Linked DNA regions of Homo sapiens: region 2 is linked to region 1. A link means that fine-mapping ties the variant in region 1 to the expression of a gene that starts in the linked region. Tissue or cell type: tibial artery. Region 1 holds a variant in brackets; the other region holds the start of a gene. All regions are shown on one strand. Distances are from middle to middle.

The links. PIP is the estimated chance that this variant, and not a neighbour inherited with it, causes the effect. A credible set is the group of variants that fine-mapping cannot tell apart.
Region 2: CXCL14 starts here. The variant in region 1 is the best candidate, but not a certain one, in a credible set for the expression of CXCL14 in tibial artery (GTEx, PIP 0.65).

What each region holds. Positions count from the first base shown.
Region 1 is chr5:135,686,240-135,691,386 of GRCh38, reverse strand. It overlaps a transcript of SLC25A48 not described here. Among named protein-coding and RNA genes, the nearest start is that of SLC25A48-AS1, 35 kb to the right of the region's middle. The variant A/T (reference allele first, on the strand shown) is at 2,799.
Region 2 is chr5:135,576,101-135,581,247 of GRCh38, reverse strand. CXCL14 (C-X-C motif chemokine ligand 14) reads left to right here and starts at 2,257. Exons shown (of 4, transcript NM_004887.5): 1 at 2,257-2,533; 2 at 2,709-2,814. The coding sequence starts at 2,470. It also overlaps a transcript of SLC25A48 not described here.

The sequences.
Region 1 (5,147 bases):
CGGGACTGGGTTCCCAGGAAGGACTCCCATACAACCCGTGCTTTTTATCACCCAGCTCTGAGCAAGAAGCCCTCCTCCTCATATGTGTCTGTGTTTGAAAGCCACAGCCTCTGAATAGCAGGTCTATCTGTGAGTAAAATTTATGACTCTTGTTTCCACTGGATCCAACCTTTTAACCCTGGGAGTGCTTAATTGCCTTTTCCAGGTTTTGCTTTAATAACCAGCTTGATTCTTGCCAATTTGGGCTGAATCGAGAAGCGCTGAATGTGTGACGGGAAACGGAAAGCTCATTACTTGATACTTGATACAGCTTATGCCAAATCCTTAATTCATTGATTTCACTCGTGGCATCTTTTCTTAAACGACAAGTCAGAAATTCATATGTAAAACTTCCAAACTCAGTTGGGGATCCTCAAAGCTGATTTTTATTAAAAAAAAAAAATGCCTTCCCTGAAGACACACTTTGGGAGAAATTCTGACCATGAATTACAGGACAGCTTTGGAATTCTTGGTCTCTCCCAGAGGAGCTCACCCTTTCTGTTGGGGCCTCTTGGGCCCCACACTCCGCCTTCCAAAGCCAGCACAGAGTAAGGTGTGGACATCTGGTTCCTGTTTCTGGATTCAAAATTGATCTGCTGGGTGATTCTTGGCAAGTCACTCAACCTCTCTGAGCTTAAGTTTCCCTAATCCTGGCTCACCAGACACCTCTCATGGGGAGGGGCGGGTGGCCTGTTAATGAGCAGGTGTTTTGGGAAGGGAGGGCTCAGCTGATGGCACAGCATAAGAGAATCCCAAGGAAAAGCAGGGACAGGTGGGGGCTGCAAATCATAGCAGAGCAGTAGCTAAACCCTGCAAAACACAAGTGGCTTGTAGCAGGGAAGAAGTTATTTCTAGAATCACTCATGTTTTACTCCAAGATAATCAAATCTCCTCATACAATCTCAGACCCAGCCTTGTTAGTTCTTCAAGGCCCCTCTGGAGCACGCTTACCTTCATGCAGCCTTCCCCAGTTCTCTTTGGCTTATGCTGGCTTTGTTCTTTCCTGAACATTCCACTGCTCTATGTGATTTTCATCCCTCCATAATATATTAAAGGATTCCTACACCCATGCTCCCAATGCCACATGCATTATGAGTCTTCCCACATTCACTTCTCCCATACATGAACTTGAAGAATTTGTTGTTATCTCCATTTTGCAGATAAGAAGACGGAGGCATAGGGAGGTTTACTAATTTTTGGGGTGACCAACTTGTCTTGGTTTGTCTGGAACCATCCTGGTTTTAGCACTGAAAGTCTTGCATCCTAGGAAACCCCCCAGCCCCAAGCAAACCGAGGCAGTGGGTCACCCTAGTTCGAATGTACATGTCTGGCTGACCCAAATAAGTGCTCTTTCCTCAGCGCCCCTTGCTCCTCTCCTTACCCAGTCCTCGTCCCCAAGTCCCCAGGCAGACACAAACTCCTCAAGGACAGCAACTATGTCTTAAAGCATTTTTGTATAAAATAACCTGGAATAGAATGGGAGTGGGTTCATATTTGCCAATTTGAATAAAATCGTATCTTCATTTCCATGATGGGAAGATCACTTTTCCTCTAACAGCATAGCTGGGTTGCTCTTGTAAGCTATTTTCGGGAAATGTCTTGCACAATTCAGCGTTACAGAGACAGGCACTTTCAAGCTCATCTCTCCTCTTTTACCAACAAGGAAATGAGTCGGCACAATGGAGTTTTAGGACCTTCAGGTTTCTAAGCAAGAACCACCTGCAATCCTCAATCTGTGTAGATCCAAATGCATGAATGCACAAAATAGATCTTTGAAAAGGCACCTCTATTACTGTAGGACTCTGTGATATAGCATTTGAACTTGCACATCCAGCTCTTCAGCTCTCAAGGCCCTTTCTTTTACTTTAGACACTTATTCAACAATGTATGTATGCTGTCACCAGGTGCCGGTGCTGCCTCACTTGGGATGATCCATATTGAACACAAACCTCAATTGACCAATTATCTGATTCCTTCCCCAAAACCATGGGCTGTAGAAGGAGGGTCTATTGTATGGAGAATCACAACAGGTGCTCCAGTTCTCAGGGATTACAGTTAAGAGAGTGCCTGTGCCTGTAGATTCCCTCTTAAGACTTGGATGAGGCCTCCCTATGAAACAGAAGGGACTGATAGGTCCAAGAGGGTCTGAGGCACCCAGTTCCTTGCTGCCAAAGGCCATCAGGAGAGTATTTGGCTTATCTCATTGATTTCATGCAAACCAATGATCAGAAGCAGCAAAGCATAGTGGTTAGGCTCACAGACTCGGAAGCTAGACAAACTTACTAGCTATGTAGCCTTGATCTTATTAATTAATCTATCTAAGTCTTAGTTACCTCATCTGTAAGGCAGAAATAATAATATTGTCTTATAAGACTGTTGTGAGGATGCACTCAGAAACATATGTGAAGAGTTGAAACACAGTAAGCATTCAAAGAATGATAGCTATTATTATTATTATTTGATTATATGGTTGGACATGGTCCCATTGGCTCCCATTGACATTGACTCCCAGTGAGGGTTCAGCCAGGCTGGAGTGGGGGCAGCTGCTGGTGAAAGCATCTCTCCATTGTACAATTTACCACTCTCCTCTGCACCAGTGGCAGCTAGAATTGCATCTCGATGAACTCATGCCCAACCCAGCCTTCAGGGCCTGCTTTTCCACTGAATCCCATTGCATGGGATGAATGTTGGCTTTTCACAGAGTGTTGGCGTTTTAGCCTTTGTTTTTTCAGCATGTTTACAGGGAATGTGAATGCTCA[A/T]ATCAATATTCCCTGGATAGCAATGTTCCCTCATGGAATAAGTTATTTTGCAATTTCTTTCCATGGTGTGTGTGTGTGTTTAAGCTGCAATAAATCATTCTATGACTTCTTCAGTGTTGCTGAACTTCTTCATAGACATTCATGCAGTGAAACACAAGGAGCACTTTGGATCCTAAGTCAAAATCTCTTACAGGAATATCTGGATTATCTAGAGATCAGAACACCAATAAAGTCAACTATTCAACTGTATCCACAGAGGCTGTTAAAAAAAAAAGCCTGAGAGAAACATGGAAGCAATCCAAATATCCATTGGTGGATGAATGGATAAGCAAAATGTGATATAGACATATGACGGAATATTATTCAGCCTTAAAAAGGGAAGAACTCCTGACAGGCTATGACTTGGATGAATCTTATGGGCATAATACCAAGTGAAATAAGCCATTCACAAAAAGACAAATACGGTATGATTGCACTTGTGTGAGGTACTTAGAGTAGTGAAAATCACACAGACAGAAACTAGACTTGGCGGTTGCTGGGGCTGGGGAAGGGGTGAATTACAAGATGAATGAGTTCTGAAGATGGATGGGGGAGATGGCTGTACAACATTAATGAGTGTCAAGTATTTAATACCACTGAGCTGTACACTTAAAATGGTTAATATGGTTTTATATTATGTGCATTTTACCACAATTTAAAAATAATTGGGAAAAAAGACCCCAGAAAAGTAAGTAGTTATCAGAAAGCCCATATGCAATAAGCCACACTCAGGACAAAAACAGACAAAAGTAAAGCCATGCAATAAACATGGAGAGGAGAAGAATTGTTAGTAAAAACAGAACAGTCAGCATCCATTTCACTCTGCAAGAGCCCTGAGAACATTACCAAATACAAGAATCCAGGAAAACAATGTCTGTTTACAAAGATAACTCTAAGTCTTTATGAAATTGTGACTTGTGTCTAAGGTGCTATTTACTAAGGAGGAAAGGGAAGATATCTTTATTAAAACAGCAACATTAAAAAAAAGACTTGACCTGAATTGACATAAAGGAAATTATAAAAGATTTCAAAAATGCTTTGAGTCATAACAATAGTGTTAGAAAAATAAAATGAATATTTAAATATCAAGCCTCAGTTACACAGAAATCTCAGTTACACAGAAATCTGATTTGTCTGGATCACCATGTTTCTTGGCAGATAAATGGAGCATTTTGCATGTATAAATACTGTAATTCTAAGTGCCATTGTAAAATCATAGAGGATTAAGCTTCTGATACATTATGACTGACTTTTCCAAAAATTACCTAATGATTTTCCAAATATATAGGTGGTAAAGTGCTCACCTTCTCACCCAATCTGTAGGTAACCTTTTTGAAGAGTAAATAAGATTCTTTAATGTCAGAGTAAATAAGATTCCTTAATGTCAGAATTCTTTCAGTCTCCCTGGTTCCCACTCAGAGTGAAGACATCAAGACACAGAAGAGCGCACAACTTCATGATCTTTGGGCATGAAAATCCTGGATGAGTCAAGCCAATAAGCCACTTAATGGATTGTTTTAAAAATTGTCATGGTCTGGGTTGTGCTGAGAGGGCATTAGGTTGTTCATATCAGGATTCTGCTTCTCTGTGGAAAAAAAAAAAACAACCCTTTCCCTTTCTTTGAAGTTAGCAAGTCATAGCCTTCAGAAATAAATGAAGCTCTTCCCAGAATGTCAGATGATAACCTAAACACCTTGTCTATCCATCAGTTCATCTATTCATCCTTCCATCCACCCATACTTCCATACTTATATCTGTCTATCCTTTCATTCCCTCTATCTATCCATCCCTTCCCATCCTTCCTTCCCTTTTTCCATTCATTCATTCTTCTATCTAGCTGTCCATCCAACCATCCATCTGTCGTCCAGTAAAACTTCACTGGTGCCTGCTAAATATGAGGTTCTGGACTGAGCCCAGGGGAGAGACGCAGTGCCCCTGCCCTCATGGCATGTTCGGTCTGCGGAGACAGGTTCACAGCAAATGAGAAGCATGAAGTACTATAGTGTGCCAGGGTGTAGCATGGAAGGCTCCACCATACGGGGAGCAGCGGAGTCAGAGAAGGCTTCACTGAGGAGACTACCCTGAGACATGCGAGATAAATGGGCATTAGCCCAAGTACAGTTATCCAAGGAACTGGAAGAGACTTAGTGTGGCTGGAGTGCAAACAACAAGGTAGGGGTCAGAGAGCTGAGGGACAAAGAGGAGCTCACTTCTGAGGGCCTTGTGAGCCACGCCTAGCAGTTTGGACATAATTTAATCCTCTCTACAACCCACAGAAATAACTGTTTAATTAAATTTAATCCATTTAAT
Region 2 (5,147 bases), 110 kb after region 1:
TTAATTCTGGTACATCTGTATGACGGAATACTCTGCAGCTAAAATCATGATAACCGCAATGGTCAGCACATATCAAACACTTACTCTGTGTTGGGGACCACATTAAAAGCATTACATGCACTATCTCATTTAATTCTGCCTATGCTGTACATATTATTATCATCTCCATCTCACAGATGAGGAAACCAATACCAAATAGAGTTAAGGTATTTGCCCAAAGTCACACAGCTAGTCCCTAGGATGCATACTCAGGCAATTTGACTCCAGACACCAGCCTCTTAGCCATTATACTACCCGGCCTCAGATGAAACCATTAAGGGAGCTATTGTTGTAGCAAGGCTAGCCACATGGAGCGATGTTCACAATATGCTAATAGGTATAGCAAGCAGGTTATTAAAGACTACATGCAGCCTGATCCCATGTGTACATGTGCACACAAAGCAAAAAGAGGATGCTTTGGGAAGATTTCACCCAAGATTTTACTTGCGTGAAAATGTTAGTTTTCTTCTGCTTGGGTTTTCTGATTTTTCTGGGCAAACGTGTTGTTTCTATATTTTAAAAAATTATTTTTAGAGTTAAAAACTAACATAAATGCCAAAAGTCACTCCCTCATACTCATCTCATGCATAAATGCAAATGTCCAGCTATTGGCTTTGCTTTAGGTATAGGCACAACAGCACGCATAGGCGCTGCTTGCTTTTCATGGCTCAGCTTCTTCTTGAAGCAGCAAGGGCTCTCCAGTTGGGAAGAGACGACACAGATTCTTCCCATTGCACCCTTCAGCAGACTGTCCCCATCATCCAGAAGCCCTCTGGGCATTTTTGCCTCCAGGGAACTGCCAGGCTGATGGCATAGAGCTGGGTGAGCTCTCTCCTGACAGCCAAGCCCAGGGACTCCAAGAGCTTGAGATGATCCACCTCCTGTCTCTGGGTCTCTCAAGGCAGCAAGAAGTGAAGGGCAGACAGGCCTCAAAGCAACAGAGTGGTCCAGGGACAGGAGTCCCAGTTCTGCAGCCGTATATACTGAGGACCCTCCTGGCCTAGTCACCTGCTTCCTAGCTCTGTGACCTTGGACAAGTTATTTCTTCTCTCAGAGCATGTTTCCACACCTGTCAAATAAAGAAATTAAAAGTACCAACTTGGAAGAAAAGTACCAATTGGTAAGAATCAAAGTAATAGATAAATTAGACATAAAACGATGGTGCCAATAAGTAACATTTCCTGGGTACTGACAACATGTATGATTTCTATAGTTCTCACAGCCACCCTATCAGAAACACTGTGATGATCTGCACTTTACAGATGATGAAACAAAAGCTGAGAGCGGTAAAGTCACTTGTGCTGGAAAGTAGTGAGGAGGGAATTTCTGCCACTATGGCTGGGCTCACACCACTATACCTCGCATTCTGGCACAATGTCTAGAACATGGGAAGGCCTTCATCCAGATGGTTACCACTGTCATCGCTCTCCACTAGGGCTCTCTACCTGGCTTTGGAGAGTAGTGTGAGAGTGAGGACTCCTCCTGGTTCTCCCCACCACCCAGACACTCACACAGCCACCAGGCCACTGACCCACTTTAAGGAGCTTTCCTTTGGGAGTCACCAAAACTCCTCCCCAATACCCGTCCCCACCCCCGCATACACACACATACCCTCTTTGAGTCAGTTCCAGTGATCACAGTCAATGACTTTGCTGCTGGACAGTCTATGACAAGCCCCTGTCCAGAACTGGCCTTGTGTTCTGGCCCAGCAGGGGCCCTTGGGGGTCAGGCCTGCAGGCACTCACACTTGGCACCTGCTCCAAAACCCTTTCAGGTCTTTGAGGATCTGAGCCCTGGGCCTGGGTCTCCCGCCGGCTCGGAAAAGCTGGCCTGCCGGGCCAGAGAGAGAACCACACGATTCAGAAAAGCAGTGCCCTTCAGCAGCCTCTCCACCGTCTGGGCTCCCCAAAGGCAGAGCGGGACGCTGGAAATGTGTGCGCGCTGTGGTATGGGTGTGCAAGTGTGCGAAGGCGGCGTGTTGTGTGAGCGAGAGGGTAGCGGATGTGTGTGTGCGTGTGCGCGCGTGGCTCCGGGTGTGCGCCGCTGCGATAGCGGGTCCTTTCCCGGGGCGGGCGACGGGCGGGCTGGGAAGGTCTCCTCCCCTCACCACATTGAGAAATCTCAGTGAGTCACCGAGTGGTTCTGCATATTAATGAGCTCGCTCGCTGCGAGGGCAGGAGCGGATTTAAAAGAGGCCAGGGCGGGCGGAGGGAGGCTGTGGAGAGAGCGCGGAGACAAGCGCAGAGCGCAGCGCACGGCCACAGACAGCCCTGGGCATCCACCGACGGCGCAGCCGGAGCCAGCAGAGCCGGAAGGCGCGCCCCGGGCAGAGAAAGCCGAGCAGAGCTGGGTGGCGTCTCCGGGCCGCCGCTCCGACGGGCCAGCGCCCTCCCCATGTCCCTGCTCCCACGCCGCGCCCCTCCGGTCAGCATGAGGCTCCTGGCGGCCGCGCTGCTCCTGCTGCTGCTGGCGCTGTACACCGCGCGTGTGGACGGTGAGTGCGGGGAGCTCCCCTTGTCGCCGTCTCGTCTTGTCCTGTCCTGGGGAACCCAAGCGCCAATTTCTAGGCATCCTGGGATCCCGCGGGGGGTGGTCTGGGTGGGCACCAAGGTGGTCGAGGGGCAGGAGACCGCCTAGCAACTAAGCCGTTGCCCCGCGCTCGCTCGCAGGGTCCAAATGCAAGTGCTCCCGGAAGGGACCCAAGATCCGCTACAGCGACGTGAAGAAGCTGGAAATGAAGCCAAAGTACCCGCACTGCGAGGAGAAGATGGTTATGTGAGTTCTCGCTCCTCACCTTGAGGGGGTGCGCACTGCTGTCAACCCAATGCCAGGGCACAGCCTGGGCCTGGGTCGGGCTAACAAACATTTCTCTCCGACTTTGTCAAGGCCCTGGAAAAGCCTTTGTAATTGCCCAGAGAGTCCTTAGGACGCTGGCGAGACACTCTGGAAGACAGTCGGGAAGGGGGGTCACTGTCCCGCTCCGGAACAGCGCCTCCAAGTTCACCCTTGCTAGGATTCAAATGAGCAGTCTCCCTATTTGTACCATGGGCCACCCACTCTGCTAGGGCCATCAAGGGTTAAAGGGTTCCCTTGTGCCAACTCAGAAAACCTAGACTGAAATCACTTAAAACACACTCACACCCAAACTGTGAGGCGTGCTGCCTTCCTGTCACTGGATAGAGGACTAATGCAAACACTATCTTAAATCCTGAGTCTCCTTCAGAGCCTTGTTCCAGTCAGAGACAAGTGGACCGCAAGTTTTTGGCTCCTAGAGATTTTATTTTGAGAACGCTCCACGAGCTTCCCTCACCGACTGTACTCCTTGTGGGTCCCCAATACGGAGCAGTACTGCAGAAAGTGCTCTGCTGGGGTTAATGTGCCACATGGCTGGAGCCCTGCTTGGTGGGGATGTGGGGAATGTTGGAAAAACTGGGGCAGAGTGAGAGAACACTTAGTTTCTTGCTCCTCCGCCTTCCCAATTAACCACTTGAGGCCAGCACCGCTGCCTCCTCATCAATATGCTCTTGGCCAGGAAGGGAGCCCTTGGCAAAGCGGCTACCAAATATTTGCCACAGACCATTGGCCCCTCTTCCCCTCCCCCAGAAACAGGACGCACTTTATTCTCAGTCTGGGCAAGTGCCCTCCACCAGCTGGCCCCCACCGGCGCAAAGGCCTTCACAGTGTCTGCGAAAGCAGTGCACACCCCTACCCAGCACCCCCCATCCCCGTCTAGGGGCTACACTGTCAGGCTGAAATTAGGGGAATTCAGAAATCCACTGGAACTGAGCTGACCCCACTGCCTTCCTTCACAGACACCTAAATTAACTTGCTTGTCCCTACCCCTTGCCTTGCAGACCAAATTCAAAGAAAATACCCAAAAATCCTTTTGGGTGGGGGCCAAGTGTCAAATGAGCTGGGAAAGGAGCTCCAAGCTCCTCAGGGCTTCCAGTTTGGGGGCTAAGAATGACAGGGGAATTCCAAGTTAAATCTCACTCGTCTAAGAGCTGAAAACCACTCTATTAACCAAACAAGTTTCTGAGACCTTGCAGGGGAAGAAAGCAGGGTAAAGGATGCAGTGATACCTAAAAAGGACAGAGCCCTCAGTAAATAGGCTTGCTCTTTTCCTGGCTAAACTTTTCCACATATAGAGAAAAACTATAGCTAGGCAAGTGTGAGAAAGGCTTTACGGAGCCTTGTAGAAACGTGCAGGGGCCTCAGGAGATCAGCACACAATCCAATCACCCTCTACTAAACCTCTAACCCACCCCCTAGGGCCTCCCACTCCATCCCTGAGGGCTGGGGGCTCCTCTCCCCCTCCACAATCCTAAAACTCTCCAAATCAGATGAGGGGCCAGCACTTTTGCAAAGCAGGTTTTCAGCCACAAAGGCTGAACAAAAGCAAATTTTCCAGCTTACCCTGAGTCACCCAGAAATCTCTGCTGAGGCTGGGGGTGGGGGCAGGAGTAGGGGCGGGGGGAGAGGTCCGCTTTGCAAGTGGGAGTCCTTGCACCCAGAAGGATCCAGGAGAGTCCGAATTCTAGAAAGAGCAATTTGTGTCATAGGTCCATGGAGCTCTCACCAAAACCCTTACCCCCACCGCCAGAACTGTGGAGGAGAGGGTCACAGGACTCAGAATTTCTGATAGTTGCTGGAGTCACAAATCCCTATGTCTGCACTCCACAACCGATTTTCATAATCCCAGTATTATGACGTGGCATTTGAGCACTGTAGTGAGAGGGCTGAGTGACCCTTCCTGCTCTCCCTTCCTGCTCTCCCTGACCTTCAGGATTTGGGATGCACAGCCTGCACACTGACCTAACTGAGAAAGGGTTTTTATCAGGCATTACCACGTCCTTTCCTTCAGAATGCTAAAGCAGCCTTGTAGGCAGAAAGAGAAAAGCATTTGCTAAATTCCTGCAGGGTGACTGGGCACAGTGGGGGAGAGAGACAACCAGAGTTCACTCTGAAGCCTGGCCTGTGCTCAAGGCTAGAGGAATGACCCGGAGTCACAGAGGAGTCCAGTCAAGGCAGGCACCATCACCTGGCATCAGCAGGAAGACCCGCCCCTGCCCCAAGGAGCTTAGGCCCTAGCAGGGACCCCAGAAACC